Linked DNA regions of Homo sapiens: all the other regions are linked to region 2. The links come from fine-mapping of genetic effects on gene expression. A gene starts in region 2. Each other region holds a variant in brackets. All regions are shown on one strand. Distances are between the middles of the regions.

Evidence for each region.
Region 1: its variant is fine-mapped to the expression of ANXA11 in whole blood (INTERVAL, PIP above 0.99).
Region 3: its variant is fine-mapped to the expression of ANXA11 in whole blood (INTERVAL, PIP 0.98).
Region 4: its variant is fine-mapped to the expression of ANXA11 in whole blood (TOPMed, PIP 0.97).

Annotation. Positions count from the first base shown.
Region 1 is chr10:80,157,143-80,162,450 of GRCh38, forward strand. ANXA11 (annexin A11) reads right to left here. Exons shown (of 16, transcript NM_145868.2): 12 at 4,793-4,886; 13 at 1,958-2,053; 14 at 825-883; 15 at 499-621. Among named protein-coding and RNA genes, the nearest start is that of PLAC9, 27 kb to the left of the region's middle. RefSeq lists enhancers at 1,040-2,239, 1,337-1,878. The variant T/C (reference allele first, on the strand shown) is at 2,902.
Region 2 is chr10:80,202,646-80,207,953 of GRCh38, forward strand. It overlaps ANXA11 (annexin A11), which reads right to left and starts at 2,892. Exons shown (of 16, transcript NM_145868.2): 1 at 2,698-2,892. LINC00857 (long intergenic non-protein coding RNA 857) reads left to right here and starts at 5,065. Exons shown (of 2, transcript NR_038464.1): 1 at 5,065-5,308. RefSeq lists enhancers at 581-670, 1,171-1,250, 3,890-4,531, 4,302-5,308, 4,532-5,173 and a silencer at 2,236-3,115.
Region 3 is chr10:80,132,727-80,138,034 of GRCh38, forward strand. It overlaps PLAC9 (placenta associated 9), which reads left to right and starts at 4. Exons shown (of 4, transcript NM_001012973.3): 1 at 4-100. The coding sequence starts at 37. The variant G/GTTTATTTA (reference allele first, on the strand shown) is at 2,288.
Region 4 is chr10:80,144,288-80,149,595 of GRCh38, forward strand. PLAC9 (placenta associated 9) reads left to right here. Exons shown (of 4, transcript NM_001012973.3): 3 at 1-56; 4 at 613-1,072. The coding sequence ends at 623. Among named protein-coding and RNA genes, the nearest start is that of PLAC9, 14 kb to the left of the region's middle. The variant C/T (reference allele first, on the strand shown) is at 2,482.

The DNA of each region.
Region 1 (5,308 bases), 46 kb before region 2:
GGGAGATTTAAGGGAGCCATTCAAGGTCACACAGTTAGCAAGTAGAAAAGCTGGACTCCAAGTGGCGTGACCCCCAGGGCCCTCGCTCTGAACGGCCTTACTATGTGGCCTACGCCATAAAGCTGAGTGCAGGAAGTGCTTTGTCAGGGAGTGACAGCAGAGCTCCACAGAGCCTTTGGGACATGAGTTCTCACTGACAGATCAAGGAATCACACGGTGATCGGAACGCTGAAGGTCACGGTCAAGGTTGGGGAGGTCCCGAGTGTTCTCTGATGCTGCTGGGGGATGCAAGGTGGGGGCGACAGCAAGGTCATGATCCACCTGCCCTCAGAAATTTATAATCTGTTTAAGGGCAAGGGGATGAACAAGTCCGAGGTCCATAATCAAGATGCCCACACACAGCACAGAGGCCAAGCATATGGCCACTCCAAGGAGGGAGGTTCCACAGGTGACTGAGATGCCAAAAGGGAGCCCAGTTGGCCTGCAGCAGGCCCGTACCGAGATGTCGTGGTACAGCGACTTGCCGTACATCCGCTTATACTCTGATCTGATGTCCAGGAGGTCGGTCTCGCTGCGAGACACCATGATGCGAATCAGGGTCCGGTCCTTTGTTCCTGCCCCCTAAAGAGAGTCCACCCAAGAGCATGAGCACCAGGCCTCCTCACCTTCCCACCTGCCCTGGGCCCTCCAGTCCCCTCCCTACCCAGGTCCTCGGAACTCTCAGCTGAGATTTAGCTCTCCCCAGGCCTTCTGCCCTCAGCCCTTGGTCCCAGGCACAGGCGAGGCTAAGGTTCCATCGCAACCTGCACATGGAAGTTACATACCCTCATGGCCTTGTTGAGCCTCTCCGCAAAGAAGGCTGGGGTATTCTTGAGACATTTCACTAGAAGAGAGAAACTCGGCATAACCAGATCTGCAGAAAATTCTCAGCCCAAGCAGGGCATGGAGTCTACAAGTGTCCTCTTAGAGGCCCAGATGTCAAACCCATCACTGCATCCATCTTTTCTCCTCCTCCTTCTGTTCCAGGCTCAACTATCCCATGATCTTGGCTCCAGCTATTTGGAACAGAAACACGCAAAGCCTGGAAACCAACCCACCCTCTTTCCTGGCAACCACTGCGGTGAAAGGACCAAGAGTCAGAGGGGCGGGGGTCTTAGTGGGGCTAGGAGCTACACAGGGAAGCAATGTGGATGGTGATGAGGAACTGTGCTGCTGCTCAGGCAGGAGGGGCAGACTGGAGAGGCCATGACCGTCATGGAGAAACCGTGGCTGAGTGGAATGTGCATCTCCCTAGGCTTCCCAGGCCATGAGACCTACTATGGGGGACAGGCAGGGAAATGAGGATTTTCCATCTCTCCCATCCAGAAAGCTCCAAAAAAAGCATAATGAAAAAAGGGGCAGACTGATTTTCCCAAGTGAGTAGAAAGAGGGGTTGTGAGGGCCTCAGGGCAGGGACCCAACTCTGCACAGTGGGAGGGCCCTGCTAGAGGACATGGGCAATGTAAGAGGCACACCACCATCCTGGAGCCAAGCCAGCTTTCCTCAGCATGGGCCTGTTTCGCTGCTGCAAGTAAAAATCTTTCCACGTGTTTCCATCACAAACATCTGACAACTGCCTGCAGGGATGTATTTTTAGAGGAAACGTGGCAGGATATGAGTCATACTCCTCCGGGAGCGCAGTTGGATGCCCTCCCACTAATACCCACACTGCAGTTCCCTACTCCAGAGCTGCACCGCAAACACACACAAGACACCTCCAGGACAGCTAGGGGTTCAACTGCACAGGGAACCGGGAAGCAGCATGACTTCCCAGCATCTGGACACTCTGGGCTGAGCGATCTTGGATCCTGTGGTCCCTTCACGGTGTCACCCATCAGCTGGAGGACAGGCGAGCAGCCTGAACACTCACGATACACGTTAGCCCCTGGCAGGTGGGCGGCAAACCTGAGACACTTACCCACGGCCAGCATGCCCTCCTCCAGGTCCCCGGACATCTCCCGGCAGATGCTCTTCTCAATGTCCCGGCCTGTCATTCTCTGGTACTCATTGAAAACTATGGGGATGACAGAGGCTTATATTATGAACTGAAATGTGTCTCCCCAAAGTTCATATGTGGAAGTCCCAACTCCCAGGACTTCAGAATATAACCGTGTTTGGAGATAAGATCTTTAAAGAGGTAATTAAGTTAAAACATGCTGCTAGGGTGTACCCTAATCCAATTCGCCTGGTCTCCTTAGAAGAAGAGAAGATTAGGACACACACAGAGATCCCAGGGATGTGCACATGCAGAGGAAAGACCATGTGAGCACAGTGATTGTCACGAAGAGGCCACGGGAGAAACCGGCACCCCACTCTTGGATATCTGGCCTTCAAAACTGTAACAAAATGAGTATCTGCTGCTTAAGCCACCCAGTCTGTGGTATTTTGTCATGGCAGCATGAGCAGACTAACAGAGGACTCACATGAGGTGGCCTCTGCCCCAAAATCTCCCACCTGCCACTCTGCTCCCACACCCTGCACGTCCCCAGGCCTGCTAGCGCTCAAGGAAGTCAGAGTCTTCGTCACAAGTTACATGCACCACCTGATGTCCCTCCCTGTGTGGTCCCTTTCTCAGGACTGCCAATCTGCTTAACCAAATCGCACCTTAATACCCCTCCAGGGCCCACTCCCATGTACTCCAAGACAGTGTCCCCTCTTCTCAAATCCTCCACACCTCCAGTCTCTGCCATTCCTTGGCTTTATTCATGCATCCATCTGTCTTCCTCAGCCTGCCTGTGAGCTGAGGCCCAGCCTGCCCCAGCCAGCCTGGCTTCTTGCTGCTCACCTCGACCTAGGACACGCTAAGCACCCACAGGAGTGGATGGCTGGCTCCTAGAGAGACAGGTGGCATGATGGAGACCT[T/C]GGTCCTGACTCCAGTTCTGACCCAGGACATAAAACTCTCCTTCCCCAGCCTGAGTCTCAGCTACCATTTGCATTTTAAAGTTGTGATTTCTGCTCTGTGTGTATCTGTCTCAATTAATATCTTCTTCCAATCAGCTACTCTTTTCTCCTAAGTAATAATGTTTGTGAAGCCATGGGCTTGATGCACTACTTACATGTTCTGTACTCATTAAAAGAAATAATGATTAAGATGAAAATGCTTTCACTCAGGCTCCATTACAGGATAGTGCAGAGGTTAAAAAGTGTGCTCTGGGGTCGGGTGGTCTGGGTTCAAATCCCAGCTCAGCTGTTACTAGCTGTGCACCCCTACTTCCTCTACCACCCTGTGCCTGCTTTCACAGCTGCGAATGGGGAGAGCCACAGCGCCTGTCTCTGTGTGCAGCACAGAGCGGTCGCTGGGTTTTCACCCTCACTGCCCACTGGAGCAGCCCTGGCCACAGCCCACCAGTTGCTCCGTGTGGTCACCATCCTCAGTCCTTGCCTGCCACCTCACACTGGCCTCCAGGACCCCCTTCCTCTGCGTCCTCCTCCCTCCCTAGCTGCTCCTTCTTAGTCTCCTCACACCGGTGGGCTCCCCACAGTCTCCCTCCTGAGGGGACCTCCTGCAGTCCCAGAGCCTCAGATAACTTCAACTACCCATAGCTCCCTTACCTTCCACAACCAGGCCAGACCTCTCCTGACCTCCACACTCAGCAACCCAGCAGCCTCCCTGCAGCTCCACCCTACAGGCACCTAAAGCCAGCTCCACCTACAGTCCCCCTGTCTCAGTTGAGGGCCATTCTCCCACTGCTTGGCCTAAAGAAACCCTGTATAATCCTCGAACCCTCTCTCTCCCACACGTCACGTGTCCAATTCATCAGCAAACATGGCCGGAACCTGACACCTCCTCACCACAAGCCCCTATTACCACCATTCCTCCCCGGGTCCCTGCAGCAGCCTCCCGACAGGCTTCGCTGCTTGGCCTTGCACCCTTCACTCCATTCTCGGCACCACAGCCAGGGATTCTGCACAGCCTCCTCTGCTCAGGGCCCTCCACTGGCTTCCTCTTTTGCTCAGGATAAATACCCAGCTCCGGGAAGTCATCAGCAGGGCCCTCTCCCCTCTCTGCCCTCACCTCCCACTCCTCTTGCTCACTCCACCTGCTCCACATGGTCCCCCTTCACTGTTCTCAGTCGTGCTGGGAGCCCCAGGCAGGCCTCTGCCCCTGCATCTCCCTTTAGGTTTTTAAATCAAATGTCACGACCTCAGTGGGGACTGGCCCAAGCACCTCCCGGTGGACCCTACCATCACTCCCTACCTGTTTCCAGCTTGATTTTCCTCTACAGGATTTCCCATCTGATACAGATTTTATTTCATTGTTGTTTACTGTCTGTCTCCCCAAATGAGAAAGTGCAGCCCATGGAACACACTCTGCAGTGCCCTGCCCCCCACCGTGGCCCCACACCTGCTCCACCACCTGACAGACTGACCCATGCGGGAGCGCGATTTACATCTGTTGAATGAATGAGTAAATGAATGGCACCCAGTTTTATTGTTATGACTGTTTCTTATGCCAGGCTTTGGAAAACACTGGATTGGGTGCTCCCGAAGGACCCTCCCAACTCTGACGTTCCACATTCCCACGTACAAAGACACCAGGTTTCTACACCGGTAGAACCTCCAGAACTGGATGTTTGCCAGAACTCAGGAAACCCTCTGACAGTGTCTTTTAAATTCCCACCAGGGGGCTCTTTTGAGGAGGCGAAAGCCCCACGCAGGGAGGAACGACCAAGTGTTCCCATAGCTTTGTTTCCCCACAATCCCCTGACTGCCCTCATCTAACTGGCCTCTGAGGGACCCCAGCCTGCCTTACCTGCTACCAGGTGGGCCCGGCTCCGGGAGCACAGAACCGCATTGAACTTGGACTCGTCTGTTCCCAGGCGGTTCTCCCCGGCCGCATACAGCTCCTGGAGAGAGAGGAAGACGCACATGTGGCACAGGCCACACCCAGACCCCAGGCCCAGGTCACCCAGGAGAGCCTGGTAAACTTCTGAAGGTTTGAGCCTAAAGTATTTGCCAATTTGCAACCTCTGAACTAGATGGCCTCTAAAGTGCCTGCTAGGCCTCAGGTAGCAGCCCTGAAAAAGAGCAGAAAGCAGCAATCAGGGGCTGAGATCCCACAGGTCAAGATGAGGCCAAAGCAGCTCTGGACTGAGAAGGCAGAGCATGAGACAATTTTTGCCCCGCTAAAAGTGGCATGCAAAACTCTCGCTGGAGCAAAAGCCAGAGCCCTGAGCCCCAGGCGTGTCCAGCCCTGACTCCCAGAATGGGAATGGATGTTACCAGCCAGAGAGACACTGAATAAGGCAGACCCTGCAGGAGCAGCAGG
Region 2 (5,308 bases):
TCTACTTCCTTGGCAGTGCTGGTGAAGCATACCCTTACACAGACGCTTCCCCATGGGAACAAGTGCCAGGAACTGCTTCAGGCTTACGGGGGAAAACAGTGGCTAAGAAGAGAGAGGAGGCCGGGCACGGTGACTCATGCCTGTAATCCCAGCACTTTGGGAGACTGAGGCAGGCAGATCACCTGAGGTCAGGAGTTCAAGACCAGCCTGGCCAACATGGTGAAGCCCCGTCTCTACTAAAAATACAAAAATTAGCCGGGCATGGTGGTGCATGCCTGTAATCCCAGCTACTCGGGAGGCCAAGGGAGGAGAATCATTTAAACCCAGGGAGCGGAGGTTGCAGTGAGCCAAGATTGCATCACTGCACTCCAGCCTGGGTGACAGGGCGAAATCTGTCTCAAAAAAAAAAAAAAAAAAAAAGACAGCAGAAGAAGAGGGGTGAATCCAGGAGGAAGGAGGGGGTGCACCAGAAAGGTCCCAGGACCTCTGATGTTCCAGCATTCAGCATGCATTTTGGTTCCACATTCAGCTCCTGCCCACACCAGTTTCTTTTCTCTATTCTACAATTTCCAAGAAGAACCCACACTAACCTATTCTGTCTCAACTCCCACTCCTGTCATCCCAAGCCACACATCACCTCCCCAATCACGTGAACTAGGCATCACTAATCGATCCTGGCCTTCTAGACACATCCACCCAGGGTGGGCCCTTTCTATAGTATCATGCATAAAGGCGTCAGGTGAGGCTTCCACTCCCACCTCTTAGTCCCAATTCATCTCCATCTCACCCTCCCCACGTTTCTCTATCCAAACCCAGCCTTCAAGGTCCTATATTTTAACCACAGGGAAACCACTTCCCTGTGCTGTCTCTGTTGTTCAACTAACGACAACTAATTTTCTGAGCACCTACATTAGGCAAGGCCCATCCTGAGTGCTGCCACCAAGAGGTAAGTCAGAAACAGCCCCCACCCTCCAGAGTCAGAGGACAGGGCAGCGATAAGCCACACCGCCACACAAATACTATGCAAGGCGAGAGATGAGAACCGAGTCAGTGCCAGAAGGGCTGAGTGAGCTCAGAGCATATCCCGTCCCTCCTGCTGGGAGCAGGCACCCGGATGGCTCCCAGGAGGGTGGAGAATGCTAGGCCAGACAGGGGAGGGAGGGCATTCCAGTAAGACAGAGAGCATGAGCTTAGCATGAGCTAAGCCAGAAAGACGGTTCAGGAGAAGTGCATTTCAACTTTAGCTGAACCTTCCACTGCTACTATTTATTGACCCTTACACCTGATTATTTATGACCCAGGCCTGCCTCACACACTTTATGGCTAATGTGGGTGACACCCATCTGGGATACACAAGTGTGGTGCAGCAGTCACCACCTGTTCTGACTGGTCCGTACCTGAGCTCTGTATTGTTATTAAATAAATGAATGCACTGAATCTCACAAGCCTGTGAGGCAGGGATTACTATTACCCCCATTTTACAGATGAAAAACCAAAGCACAGACAATAGTCAAAGAAAAGATAGCAAGGTATGCAGGAGCCTGAAGTAGTGGGCACCCAATGCCAGGGCAACAAACTGCCCTGGCACCTCACCTGGCCTCTCTTATCAGGGAACACCTTGCAGCACAAAGAATGCCTTGAGGAAAGGGGCCCTGTTAATCCCCTGGAATCCCCAACAATTGACTGCCGCATAAAAGGAATGAGGAAAGCAATGAGAGCCAGTGAAGGGTGAGCATACCAGGCCCTGCCCTGCAAACCTAGTCCCTGTTGCGTGGGCAGGGCAGGGCAGGGCAGGGCAGGGGCTCGGCCTCACAGCTCCACTCCATGCCCAGCGCAGAGAACAGAGGGGAGAGCTACCACAAACGCCGAATCTCTACAGAGAGGTCAAGGATTGGAGGGCAGAGACAGAAATGCCCCGGGCTGACTGTTTCCAGCTTGGGCTAGCACTGGCTGGCTTAACTTTTCCCCTCCAAAGTCTCTAGGTAACAAACTTCGCGTGTCTCCTTTAAACCAACAGACCATTTTACCTAAGTCTTAAGGGCCTGGCCTGCACCCATGGGAGATACAAGTCCAGGAATCCCTTCCTGAAACTGGGGATCAAGGTTGGGGAAGGGGCGAAGGCACGCACAGCACCTGGGATGGCTCCCGCATTCCCTCAAACACTGGGGAGAGTTCCTTACAAATAAACTGCAATGGTAGCAGCTCCCAGGAATGTGCGTGCTCCCAGTTTCGGAGGAAAGTTCCTGAAGATAGCCTTCTCTGCTTAATCTCCCCAAGCCTCGCCTAGAAGGGCGCGCGCACCCTGGAGGGCTCCGCAGGGCTGCGGGGCCGGGCCTCCGGCACCCCTCCCGCCACCCGTTGCCTCCTGCGCCCAGGGTCACGGCCCCTGGCCCTACCCAGGCCCAGACTGAGACCCCGACCCCTGAGCCCGGGGGGACGGCGAGTGCACCCCGACCACACATGAGGGAGCAGCCCCAGACGCCGAGGCTGATCTAGGGGGCTGCCAGGCCGACACGGCCCGCCCGCGACCCGCCGACGCCCTCCCCTGCCCCCCACCCCCACGCCTGTAGTGCAACCAGGAAGCCGCAGGGCCGCGCTGGGCTGGGCGCCAGGCAGCCCCGGGCCTCACCCGCGGCGCCGCGGTGCACTGCCGCCGCCTGGTCCCAGGCCCCCAGCCGGCTCGGGACCCTCACTCACCTGGCCACGGGGACTCCGGACGCGAGGGGCGAAATGGGACGTGGGCGGGAGTGGCTCTCTCCGCGGGCGTCCCGGGCGCGGCGCCTGGGTTCTGCCTAGGGGCTGGGTCCCACTCCCGCTCGCGGGGCCCGCGGGGCACTCGGGGCACTGGGGAGCCGCGGGCGCAGCAGCCGTCAGCGCCGGGCGGAAAACTCCGCGGGCGCGGCTGCCCCAGGTGCCAGAGGCAGTGCAAGGGAGGGGCGGGGCCTGAGCGCGGCCCCGCCCCCAAGATGAGGACTGGGCACGGCGGGCCCGCGAGGAGCAGCAGCCTTCCGGCTGCGGAGCTGCTCCAGGAAGTCTCGGGCTCCGGAGGTCCCTCTGCCGCCCCTAACCCCTGCGGCGCCCAGTGCCGCGCAGAGCCGCATTCGCCCTCCTGCAGGGGTGGGCATTTCCTAAGTCCTCTCCAGCCCCGTGTGCGTCGGTTAGTGACTCTCTTTAAGGTCGAGAAAACTTTTTACACTGAAAAGGTCAAACGCATTTCCTTTATAGCAACACTCGGTGGTGGTGGAGGGGGGAAGGTCACGCACAGTATGTGAGGAAGGGAGCGGTCAGTGACTATCGTGGAGAAACCTGACAAACCACCCAGCCGTCAAGGTGACCTCGACAGGGGTAAATCATACTGATTGCATGCACCGCTTGTGGTCTTCCTCCCAAGAACACCTAACCCCACTGTAATCATGAGGAAAACATCACAAATCAATTGAGGCCCTTGCCATATACATGACCAGTACTCCTGAAAACTAGCAAGGTCATCAAAAACAAGGAAAGTCTAGGACACTGTCACAGCCAAGAGGAACCCACGGAGATATAAAAATGACTTAAGATGTTAATAATAGGAAAAGCCCGGGTTTATGAGAATTCCCTGTATTCACACTTTTTCTGTAAATCTAAAGATGTTCTAAAAATAAAGCATATTTTTAAAAGGTCACCCAGGTAATATATGCATATATGGTAGGTATACAATTTTTTTTTTTAATGAGTGGTGGCTGACGCCTGTAATCTCAGCACTTTGGAAGGCCAAGACAGGAGGATGGCTTGAAGACAGGGCTTCCAGACTAGCCTGGGCAACATAGTGAGACCCAGTCTCTAAAAAACTAAAAATAAAAAATTCAAAAAATGAGTAAAAATTGAGATTCACTCTTCCCTCCACTCCCCCAGCCCACTCTTAGGTGTGTCCTTCCAAATATCTCTCTTTAACACTGTGTGTGTGTGTTTACATAAACGTATTGTTTACAAAACGATATTGCAGTACTTTTCTGCAACATGTTTTTTTACTCACTATATCTTGGAGGGTCTTTCCATACAAGTGCTCCTGAACAGACCTGGTTCTTCCCATCCACTGCACACTGCGCGCCATCGTGCGCTTCACCATTCTTCATTACCTAGCTCCTTACTGAAGGACATTTAGGTTGTTGCCTATGTTTGGCTGTTACAAACAAGCTGCTGGTTCGATTTTCCTTTTTTTTTTTTTTTTTCTGAGACGGAGTCTCGATCTGTCGCCCAGGCTGGAGTGCAGTGGCGCGATCTCGGCTCACTGCAACTTCCGCCTCCCGGGTTCAAGCGATTCTCCTGCCTCGGCCTCCTGAGTTGCTGGATCTACAGATGCCCACCACCACGCCCGGCTAATTTTCATTTTTAGTAGAGACGGGGTTTCACTATGTTGGCCAAGCTGTTCTCGAACTCCTAGGCTCAAATGATCCGCCCGCCTCGGCCTCCCAAAGTGCTGGGATTACAGGCGTGAGCCACCGCGCCCGGCCCGATTTGCGTTTTAAAGTCGCTCTGAACAATAAAATCCGGAAGGACTGGAGGGGAGGCTCCGACCTTCTCCCTGTCTGGGCAGGTGTGCTGGTGCCGGGCAGGAACGGTGCCTTGGGACAGCCTGGCCCCGGCCTCACAACGGGCCCCGGGCGCTCAGTCATATTCCGTGGCCGCTCCAACACCCCCTACCCCCACCAGCAGGCGCGGCTCTCTTTCGGGGCTGGACTGCATTTTTTGGACATGAGTCGGCGAGTGAGGGTGAAACTCAGGCCAAAGTCTCCAGAGCCGCTCGGAGAAAACGCTGCCTGGAACAGAAGAGCAGAGGATCAGAGGCACCACCAGAGACTCTCAGAGTGGGTTATTACCCTGGTGGGGGCGCCTGCTGCGGCGTAGGAGATGGCGGGACTGGGGGCGCGGGTGTGAAGCCCCCAAGAAATCTGTGTGAATTTCCTGGGGAGGTAAGGTCTCCAGGCGCTCTCTCTGGGCCCGGGGATTGGTCCGGGAAGGTCTCCTGGCGCCTACCCAGCCCCCACTGCCTGGACGCCTGCGCCTGCTCTGCCGCCCCACAGCGACCGCGAAGGCCAGCTTCTTCGAAAGGCCCATTTTTCTCCGTGGCTGAGCGAATGCTCCTAGAATACCACGTTTATAATAAATCATGTAGGGTGGAATTCCTGCTGGATGTATACACCTTTCTGCATCAGAGCTCTTCAAACCCAGAATGGTGAATAGCTACCCCTGGGCTTACCCTTTTATAATTTTCAACAAACCTGCGTTTAGCCCCGGCTAGGTGCCAGCAAGTTGCTAGGGACTGAGG
Region 3 (5,308 bases), 70 kb before region 2:
GGCAGACGCGGCGCTGCGCTCGGCCAGGCCGGCACCATGCGGCCCCTGCTCTGCGCGCTGACCGGACTGGCCCTGCTCCGCGCCGCGGGCTCTTTGGCCGGTGAGTGGGGCGCAGGGCGCGGCAGGGGACCTGGAGCCGGGGAGACCCGCAGATGGCGAGGAAGGAATGAGCGAGAGAGACGGAGAGAGAGCTGGACACAGCAGCGAGATGGACAGAGAGGCAGATGCAGGGAGGGAGGGATGGAGAGAAAGATTGAGAGGAAACAGACTCAGAAAAAGGCAGAGAAGTAGAGCAACGGAGAGATAAAGGAGATAGGGAAGAATACACAGTGAAAAGGAAAAAGGAGAGGCTGAGACAGAAAGAGGCTTCCCCTGAACAGATATGAACTAAGATAGAAAGAAAAAGGAGTTTGAGAGACAAAAGAGAAGAAGGAAAGAGAAAAAGTGATTAAAATGGCAAGGGGTGGAGGGAGAGAGGATATTGAAGAAAAGAGAAAGATTTGAGAGAGACCAAAAAGGAGAGAGAGGGAAGCTCGATGCCCGGAGTAGAGCTGGCAAGAGAGAAGGAGCCAGGATCTGGAGTGGGAGGTCACAGCTGCTGGGTGGGGCAGCCCCGGAGGCCAGCTCCATCTCAGAGGGCCTGTGGAGGCTCAGGCCTGGCTTTATAGGACATTGCATAAGAAGCCACACTCCAAAGGATGAGTGACCCAGGCTAGCCCAGCACAGCCTTAAGGAACCAGGCAGTCGGGCCCAGGAGAAAGGCCACCGATTCACCTGCCAGGTGGCCTCAGGTGGATCTGCAGTCAGTGAAGAAGTCAGCCTCCCGGTTTCCAGGGAGCTTCTCTGGGAAACTGAGCTATGTTGGGTGGAGATGGGGGACTGGGTGGAGGTGGAGAGCTGTGCGGAGGAGAGAGGCTGTCTGGGTACTCCATTAGCTGGGTTCCTTGCTTTTCACTGTCCGCTTTCTTCCCCTCACCTACCCCTCAGGCGGGCGGATCACAAGCTCAGGAGATCAAGACCAGCCTCGCTAACATGGTGAAATGCTGTCTCTATTAAAAATACAAAAAATTAATCGGGCGTGGTGGCACATGCCTGTAGTCCCAGCTACTCGGCAGGCTGAGGCAGGAGAATCACTTGAACCTGGGAGGCGGAGGTTGCAGTGAGCCGAGATCAAGCCACCGCAATCCAGCCTGGGTGACAGAGCAAGACTCAGTTTCAAAAAAAAAAAAAAAAGAAGAAGGAAAGGAGGAAAGTATTCATGTATTAGTGTAATTTCACACTGATTTCATATATTTTTGTGCATAATCTTTCAGATTTTAGATGATATATCTTAACTTTTGATTATGAAAACTTTTGGATACAAAAAAATACAAAGTAATAGTATGTGAAAGAATCATGTAATATACTTATCAACGCTGCTTCAAGAAGTATCAGTTCATGGGCAGTTTTATCTCATCTATAGCCTCCACCCTCTCTCCCCTCCCTGGATTATTTTAAAGGAAATCCAGGCATTGTATATTTTCTTTCTTTCTTTCTTTCTTTTTTTTTTTTTTTTGAGACAGGATTTCATTCTGTCACCCATGCTAGAATGCAGTGGCACAATCTCAGCTCACTGCAACCTCCGTCTCCCGGGTTCAACTGATTCTCCTGCCTCAGCCTCCTGAGTAGCTGGGACTACAGGCACGCACCACCACACCTGACTAATTTTGGTATTTTTAGTAGAGATAGGGTTTCACCATGTTGGCCAGGCTGGTCTCGAACTCCTGGGCTCAAGTGATCCACCTGCCTTGGCCTCCCAAAGTGCTGGGATTACAGGTGTGAGCCACAATGCCTGGCCTGGCATCATGTATTTTCATCTATAAATATTTCTTTGTGTACCTCTAAGAGATAAGCACTCTTAATAAACATAACTGCAATGCTATGATCATACTCCAAAAACTGTGTGTGATTGAATATCATTAAATATTCAATCACTGTTCAAATGTCCTTGATTGATTGTGTCATATCTTTTTGCAATTCATTTGTTTGATCCAAATAAGGTTACATACACTGCATTTGGTCAATATGTCTGTTAGATCTCTTTAAATATGTAAGTCTTCTCTCCCCTTTTTTTACTTAATTTTTTGTTTTTGTTGAAGAAACTAAGTTTGTCCTGTAAAGTTTTCCACATTTAGATTTTGCTAATTGCATCCCTTTTATGTCATTTAAATACCTCCACCCCTTATATTTTCTATAAATTGAGAGCTATCTCTAGCACGTCCAACTTCCAACCTTGGTTTGTTTGTTT[G/GTTTATTTA]TTTATTTATTTATTTATTTATTTGAGATGGAGTCTCGCTCTGTCTCCCAGGCTGGAGTGCAGTGGTGCGATCTCCGCTCACTGCAAGCTCCGCCTCCCGGGTTCACACCATTCTCCTGCCTCAGCCTCCCAAGCAGCTGGGACTACGGACGGCTGCAACCATGCCCGGCTAAATTTTTTTTGTATTTTTAGTAGACATGAGGTTTCACTGTGTTAGCCAGGATGGTCTCGATCTCCTGACCTTGTGATTTGCCCGCCTCGGCCTCCCAAAGTGCTGGGATTACAGGTGTGAGCCACTGCGCCCGGCCTTTTTTTTTTTTTTTTTTTTTTGAGACAGAGTCTTGTTTTGTCATCCAGGCTGGAGTGCAGTGGTGCGATCTCAGCTCATCACAACCTCTGCCTCCTGGGTTCAAGCAATTCTCGTGCCTCAGTCTCCCAAGTAGCTGGGATTACAGGTGTGCACCACCACACCCAGCTAATTTTTGCATTTTTTAGTAGAGACGGGGGCTGCGGGGGAGTTTCACCATGTTGGCTAGGCTGGTCTCAAACTCCTGACATCAAGTGATCAGCCTGCCCCGGCCTCCCAAAGTGCTGGGATTACAGGCATGAGCCACCGCGCTGGGCCCAAGTCTTGGTTTCTTTTAGCAGCACTCAGAGAAACCTTTATCCCTGATGGCTTTTTAGACCATGAGCCACCACGCCCGGCCCATATTTTGGAGTTTTTTATAAAATCACTTGAAGAATAGTTTTCTGCTGCTTTCAAAAATGATCAAAACCCGTGGATGGTTTTGAGTGAATCATACATTTTAATACAAATATTGGATGTGGTAAATTTATTATTCTATTATGTTGAATGTGGTCAAATATAATTAACCCCCAAGTGGCCAGGGTTGCTTTTCAAAGCAGAGTGTGACTTTGACAATTCAGAAGATACAGCGGCACCTTTCAGATGCCACTGAGAAAACATTTCTCAACCCCCAGCATGCAGAAATCATCTGTGTTGTGGCCCTTTCTTACTGTTTGGGTCCAGATACAAAAGGTCTCCCCATAAGGCCTGTAAGTAGAAGCACCCGTACTTCCGCCTCAGAGGATGGGACCCAGGGGCCACGTCTCTTTAACTGGGGCAGCCAGCCCAGCCGAGCCCTCCTCTGGGGCCTCCGGGCTCCACAGCAGCGTGTTCTCACCAGCACAGGATGCCCCACCCATGGCCACCATCCAGGGTGCACATCAGGCCCCTAGCAGGAGCCGGGCCAGAGAAAACAACGCAGCATCCAAGGAGGTCCATTTCCCAACTGGCAGGGCCTGGGAGAGCGGGAGGAAAGGAAGGAAGGGAGCCCTGAGGAGCCACAGCCTTGGCTGCTCAGGGTTAATCATCATAATCCTTCAGTCTTTTCCACTCCCCTTGTCTGAGCCACTGACAGCCCTGTGGTGCATGTGCGTGTCTACTATTTTTTATTCATTTATTTATTTTCTTACAAGACACAGTCTTTCACTGTCACCCTGGCTGCAGTGCAGTGGTGCAATCGTAGCTGACTGTAGTCTCAAACTCCTGGGCTCAAGCGATTCTCCCGCCTCAGCTTTCCAAATACCTGAGACTACAAGTATATACCACCAATCCTGGCTAATTTTTTTTTAATTTTTATTTTATTTATTTATTTATTTATTTATTTATTTATTTTTGTAGAGACAGAGTCTCACTATGTTGCCCAGAGTGACCTCAAACTTCTGGCTTCAAGCGATCCTCTTGCCTCAGCCTCCTAAAGCTCTGGGATTACAGGTGTGAACCACCGAGCCCAGCTCGTCTAGCTAATTCTTGAGGCCTCTCTGCAGCCTCCAAAAGACAGAAGAATTAAGGATGCGCTACACGGGGGAGTCAGGGCCTCAGGCCTACCCTACCCCATTTTATGTAAGAGGCAGCAGAGGCTCAGGGAGCAGAAGAAACTTTCTCACAATCCCACAATCATTAGTGGCTGAACCAGGCTGAGAAAAGGGGTCTCCAGCATGTTTTCTACCATGATGCGTTCAAGTCAGCGCTGTGGTGAGGATGCTGGCAGTACAATGTCAGGCCCTGCTCCAAGCTTGCTCTCTCAGATGCACTCTGTGGAGGCCCCGATGAGCTCACGGACAGTTGCTCCAGGGTGCACAAAGCACAGTTTTGTCCAGATGTGAAGGATTAGTGCTGAGCCATGTTGGGAGCGACCTCAGCCCAGCCTTTTCCCTGGAGGGGTTTTGGAGCCAAGTTAGACCTCATCACAGACACGTAGAGAACAGGGTGGTTTAGGCCAGTGGAGGGGAGCAGGCTCTGGTTGTTCTGACTTCCAAAGCAGCCAGACTCCCATTTGGCTGGCAGGGTCACACTGCATCCCCCTGGCCTGAGCCTTACACGGGAGAGTGGCTAGGGTCTGGGAGAGGGCAGGTGAGCCTCAGAGAAAAGGCTTGGCCAAAGGCCTCTGGACAGAGCCAGCAGGGGGGTATGTGTATCCACAGACTCATGACAACAGGCCCTCCCCTAGGACGGCCACTCTGTGGGTGACAACAGAGGCCCCCTCAGAGCTTTTCCTCTCCAAGCTGAGCAGCCCAGTTTCAGCTGAGAGAATTGAGTTAAAATTTGGAGTCCCAGACTGGGTGCGGTTGTTCACTCCTATAATCCCAGCACTTTGGGAGGCCGAGACAGGCGGATCACTTAAGCCCAGGGGTTTGAGCTTAGCCTGGGCAACGTAGTGAAATCCTATCTCTACAAAAAATACAAAACGTAGCCAGGCATGGTAGTGTGTGCCTGTAGTCCCAGCTACTCTGGAGGCTGAGGTGGGAGAATTGCTTGAACCCGGGAAGAAGAGGTTGCAGTGAGCCATGATTGTGCCACTGCACTTCAGCCTGGGTGACAGAGTGAGACCCTGTCTAAAAAAAAAAAAAAAAAAGAGGAGTCCCTTCCCATAGCCTCCTCTAGACCTGCTCCTGCCTCTCAAGGGCCTTCTCAGGATGTGGGGCCAGGATGGAGCATAGCCCCCAGGGGCCTCTCTC
Region 4 (5,308 bases), 58 kb before region 2:
GCTGGCCTGGAACCTGCCCCCGGGACCCTTCAGCCCCGCTCCCGACCTTCTCGGAGGTGAGCAGTGCAGGTGGCAGAGGACAGCCTCTGGGCGGCTGTCATCTGGCGCTGGGCAGGCGAGACAGGGACGGCTGCTCCACTGCACAGGTGTAGCCTGGCTGGCAGGGAGGGCCCCAGCGCTCCCTGGGGACGGAAGCGGGACGGCATCATCCCTGCTCCCCGCCCGCCCCGCCCCACCTGCCACACCCGGTGGCTGCCGCCCAGTGTCAAATGAGGTTCTGGAAGAGCCGGCCCTAGATGCCATCTCAGCACAACCCCTGCGCGGAGAAACTGCCTCCTTCATTAGCCTTCTCACGACTGGAGCTTCTCAGCTCCTTTAATTTTCCCCTGAGCAGCCACTCCTGTTCCACCCCAAAACTCTCGCAGGGAAGACGGGCGTCCCCACTGATCAGGCAGGGTTGGGGTTGCACTCTGCTCTCTCCTTGATCCTTGTGTCCCGCGCGCAGTAGTTCCTGGGGGCCGGGGAGGGAAGGGAAGGAACTGCTGGGCACCACGGGGGCAGGTACTCTGCGGCACCCCAGCTTGCTCACTGGGGGCCTCTGCTTTCTTTCAGATGGCTTCTGAGCCCTGGAGCTGGAGCCCAGCAGTTGGAGGTGGTGCACCTGCCAGGCAGCGCCCACAGAACCAGCCCTGTCCTCTCGACTTCCTTCCTTAGCTTCATGTGAAATAAAAGCTATTCTGGTCTCCTCTGTGTCTGCTGACAGAGTAACCCGTTTAACTACAGCCTCCTCTCACTCCACTTCCATGCCTGGAGGAAGCCTGCAACCCCCTCCAGGCTCAGACCTGGGGACACCCCCACTCCTGTCATTTATAGGGGCAGATGGAGCAGGGGTTGATTCACACAGATGGGGGCCCTTTGAGTGGCCTTGCTTCTCAAAATGTGGCCATAGGTGAAAAGCAAGGGGATCAGGGTCTCAGGACCCACCCAGACTGTTTAATCCAAATCTGCATTGCAATGAGACCCCCAGGGATTTTATGTGTCCATTAAAGTGGTTTGTTGTTGTTTTTAAAAATTTTTCCTATGAAGTGAAATTCAATGTAAAATTCATCATTTTAACCATTTTAAATTGTACAAGGCTGGGGGCGGTGGCTTACACCTATAATCCTAGCCCTTTGGGAGGCCAAGGTAGGAGGATCACTTGAGCCCAGAAGTTTGAGACCAGCCTGGGCAACATGGTGAAACCCCATCCCTACAAAAAAATACAAAAATTAGCCGGGCATAGTGGCACGTGCCTGTAGTCCCAGCTACTCAGGAGGCTGAGGTGGGAGGATCACCTGAGCCCTGGAGGTCAAGGCTGTGGTGAGCCATGATCATGCCACTGCACTCCAGCCTGGGAGACAGTGAGACCTTGTCTCAAAAAAAAAAAAAAGAAAAAGAAAAAAAATTGTACAAATGCAGTGGCTTCCAGTACATTCAGAAGTTGTGCAGTCATCACCACCAGTTCCAGAACATTGTTCTCTCTCTAGAAAGAAACTGTGTATCTATTAAGCAGTCACATCCCATTCCCGCTCCCCACACCCCACTGGAAACCACTGATCTCTGTCTTCACGAACTTGCCTATTCTGGACATTTTAAATACAGTAGTCCGGCTTTATCTGTGGTTTCACCTTCCATGGTTTCAGTTACCTGCAGTCAACCACAGTCCTAAAATATTAAACTCCAGAAATAAACAATATATGAGTTTTCAATTGCACATCATTCTAAGTGGCGTGATGAAATCTCTTGCCATCCCACTTCATCCCGCCCCGGATGTGAATGCTCCCTTTGTCCAGCATGGTCCACGCCGTCTACACTTCCTGCCTGTTAGTCACTTAGCAGCCTTCTCAGTTACCAGATCAATGGCCACAGTATCACAGTGCTTGTGTTCCAGCAACACTTCTTTCTCTTAATCAAGACCCAAAGTGCAAGAGCAGTGCTGCTGGCATATGGTTGTTGTTTTTCACACAACTCTCCCTTCACAGAAGCTGGCATATTGTTCTAATTGTTCTATTTTATTCTTAGCTATCGTTGCTAATTTCTTATGGTGCCTAATTTATAAATTAAACTTCATAGGTATGCATGCATAGGAAAAAACATAGTATAATAGGATTAGATACTATTGTGGTTTCAGGCATCTGCTAGGGGTATTGAAATTTATCCCCTGAAGGTAAGGGGGTAGTACTGTAGGTAGAATCACACAATACGTAGTCTAGCTGTATCTGGCTTCTTTCTCTGAGCATAATGTTTTCAAGGGCCATCTGTATTGTAGCATGTATCGGTACTTAATTCCTTCTTACGGATGAATAATGTTTCATTGTATGAATATACCACATTTTATTCTTTTATTTTTTTAGACAGAGTCTCGCTCTGTCACCCATGCTGTAGTGCAGTGGCATGATCTCAGCTCACTGCAACCTCTGCCTCCCGGGTTCAGGCAATTCT[C/T]CTGCCTCAGCTTCCTGGGTAGCTGGAATTACAGGTGCACACCACCACGCCTGGCTAATTTTTGTATTTTCAGTAGAGACAGGGTTTCACCATGTTGGTCAGGCTGGTCTTGAACTTCTGACTTCTTGATCCACCCGCCTCAGCCTCCCAAAGTGCTGGGATTACAGGTGTGAGCCACCACACCTGGCCCACATTTTATTCATTTATTCGACAATTGAGGGACATTTGGGTTGTTTGCATTTTTTAGCTATCATGAATAATGTTGCTATGAACATCCGTATGAGTTTTTGTGTGAATATTTGTTTTTTAATTTGTTTTGGGTCTATATGTAGGAATGAAATTGCTGAGTCACATGGTAACTCTTACGTTTAACTTTTTGAAGAACCACCAAACTCTTTTGTATTGCAGCTGTACTATTTTACATTCCCACCTGCAATATTAGCTGTGGCTTATTCATAGATGCCCTCTAGCAGGTTGAGACATTTTCCTTCTAGTCTTAGTTGAGTGTTTTTTTAATCATGAAAGGATGTTGGGTTTTTTCAAATGCTTTTTCTGCATCAATTGAGATGATCATGTGATTTTCCCCTTTCATTTTATTAATTACATGCATTACATCGATTTTTTTTTTTTTTTTTTTAAGACAGAGTCTCACTCTGTTGCTCAGGCTGGAGTGCAGTGGCACGATCTCAGCTCACTGCAACCTCTGCCTCCCAGGTTTAAGCAATTCTCCTGCCTTAGCCTCCCGAGTAGCTGGGATTACAGGCACCCACCACCATACCCGGCTAATTTTTGTATTTTTAGTAGAGACAGGGTTTCGCCATGTTGGCCAGGCTGGTCTTGAACTTCTGACCTCAGGTGATCCACCCGCCTTGGCCTCCCAAAGTGCTGGGATTACAGGCATGAGTGAGCCACTGTGCTTGGCCTGATTTTCATATATTAAATGACCTTTGCAGTCCTGGGATAAATTTCACTTGGTCATGGTGTATAATGCTTTTAATATGCTGCTGGATTTAGTCTGCCAGCATGTTGTTCAGGATTTTCGTTCCTGGGCCACAATTCTAGACACACCCTGGGCTGGAAGGGAACCCACTGCCTTGAAGGAAAGGACCCAGTCTTGGCTGCATTCATTGCCTGTTAACTGAAGAGCCCTTGGTCCCTGAATAACCAGCAGAGATACCTGGGTACTATGCTGAGGGCCTTGGGTGAGACTCGGTCTTGTCGGTTTCAGGTTCAGATTCAGCCAGCACATTCCCAGCTGTGGTGGTTACAAGGCAAGATTCCTGCTAGAGAAAAGTGGAGGGAAAAGTAAAGTGGGCTTTGTCTTACACCTTAGATACCAGCTCAACCACAGGACAGTAAAGCACCAAATGGTTCTTGGGAATGCCAATTCCAGGACTTGTCTCTTAGATGGCATTTATGGACCTACCCTGGGCCAGAGGGGCGCCCACTGCCCTGGAGGGGGGGGTCCCATGCCAGGCAGCATTCACCACCAGCTGGTTGAAGACTCCCTGGGCCTTAAGAGAACATCAGCAGTAGTCTGGCAGTACTCCCTGTGGGCCTGTGGTGGCGGTGGCCATGGAGTGAGGCACCTCTGCCTTGGGAAAGCGGAAGCAAGAGAGGGAAGGACTGCATCTTGTGGATTCAGTGCCAGCTCACCTGCAGTATAACAGAACACCAGGTAGACTTCTAAGATTTTTTACCCTAGTTGCTGGCTCCCAGATGGCACCTTTGGGCCCAGCTGGGGCCTGGAGGACCTTGCTGTTCTGAAGGGAAGGACACAAGCCTGGCTGGCTCTGCCACCAGCCGATTGTAGAGCCCCAGGGCCTTGAGCAGACACAGGCAGTAGCCAGGGAGTGGTAACTGCAGGCCTTGGGTGAGAGCCAGTGCTGTGCTGGCTTTCAGGTCTGACCCAGTGCAGTCCTAGTGGTGGTGGCCACAGGGGTGCTTGTGTCCTTTCACCCCCAGCTTCAGGTGGCTTAGAACAGAGAAAGGGACTCCCTTTGTTTGGGAGACAGTAACGGAATGAACAAGAGTCTCTGTATGGTAATACAGAGAATCCTGAATCTTGTCCAAGACCATCAAGGCAGTAACTCTATGAGGCTAAAAAAAAACCAAAGTGTTATTGGGCTTGGGGTGAATCCTTAAGCAGATACAGCTTAGAGCACAACACCCAAGCCATTCAAATATCTGGAAAGCCTTCCCAAGAAGGATAGGTACAAACAAGCACAGACTGTGAAGACTATGATAAATACCTAACTCTTCAATGCTCAGACACAGATGAACATCTACAAGTATCAAGACCACCCAAGATTTTCCTTTCAGCACACTGAATATGTCATCTCATTGCCTTCTCACTTCCATGATGTTGGATGAGAAATTGGCTATTAATCTTATCGAAGATTTCTTGTACGTGTCCAGTGGCTCTTTCTGCTTTCAGGATTTGCTTTGCTTTTGGACAGTATGATTATAATGTGTTTCAATGTCACACTGAGTGTCTCTTTGAGTTGACCCTACTTACAATTCATTGAGCTTTTTGTATGTGTAGATTAATGTCTTTCATTATGTTTTCAGCCATTGTTTCTTTAAAAATTTCTTCTACATTCACTCTTCTCTTGATTCTTATTAGGTGTATGTTGGTACACTTGATGGTGTCCTGCAGGTGTCTTAGGCTCAGTTAGCTTTTTTGTTGTTGTTGTTTTCTTTCTGCACCTCAGAATGGGTAATCTCAATTGACCTATCTTGAAGTTTGCTGATTTTTGTCTTCTTCCTTTTTAAGTCTGCTCTGGAACCCTTCCAATGAATTTTTTATTTGTGTACTTCTCAATTC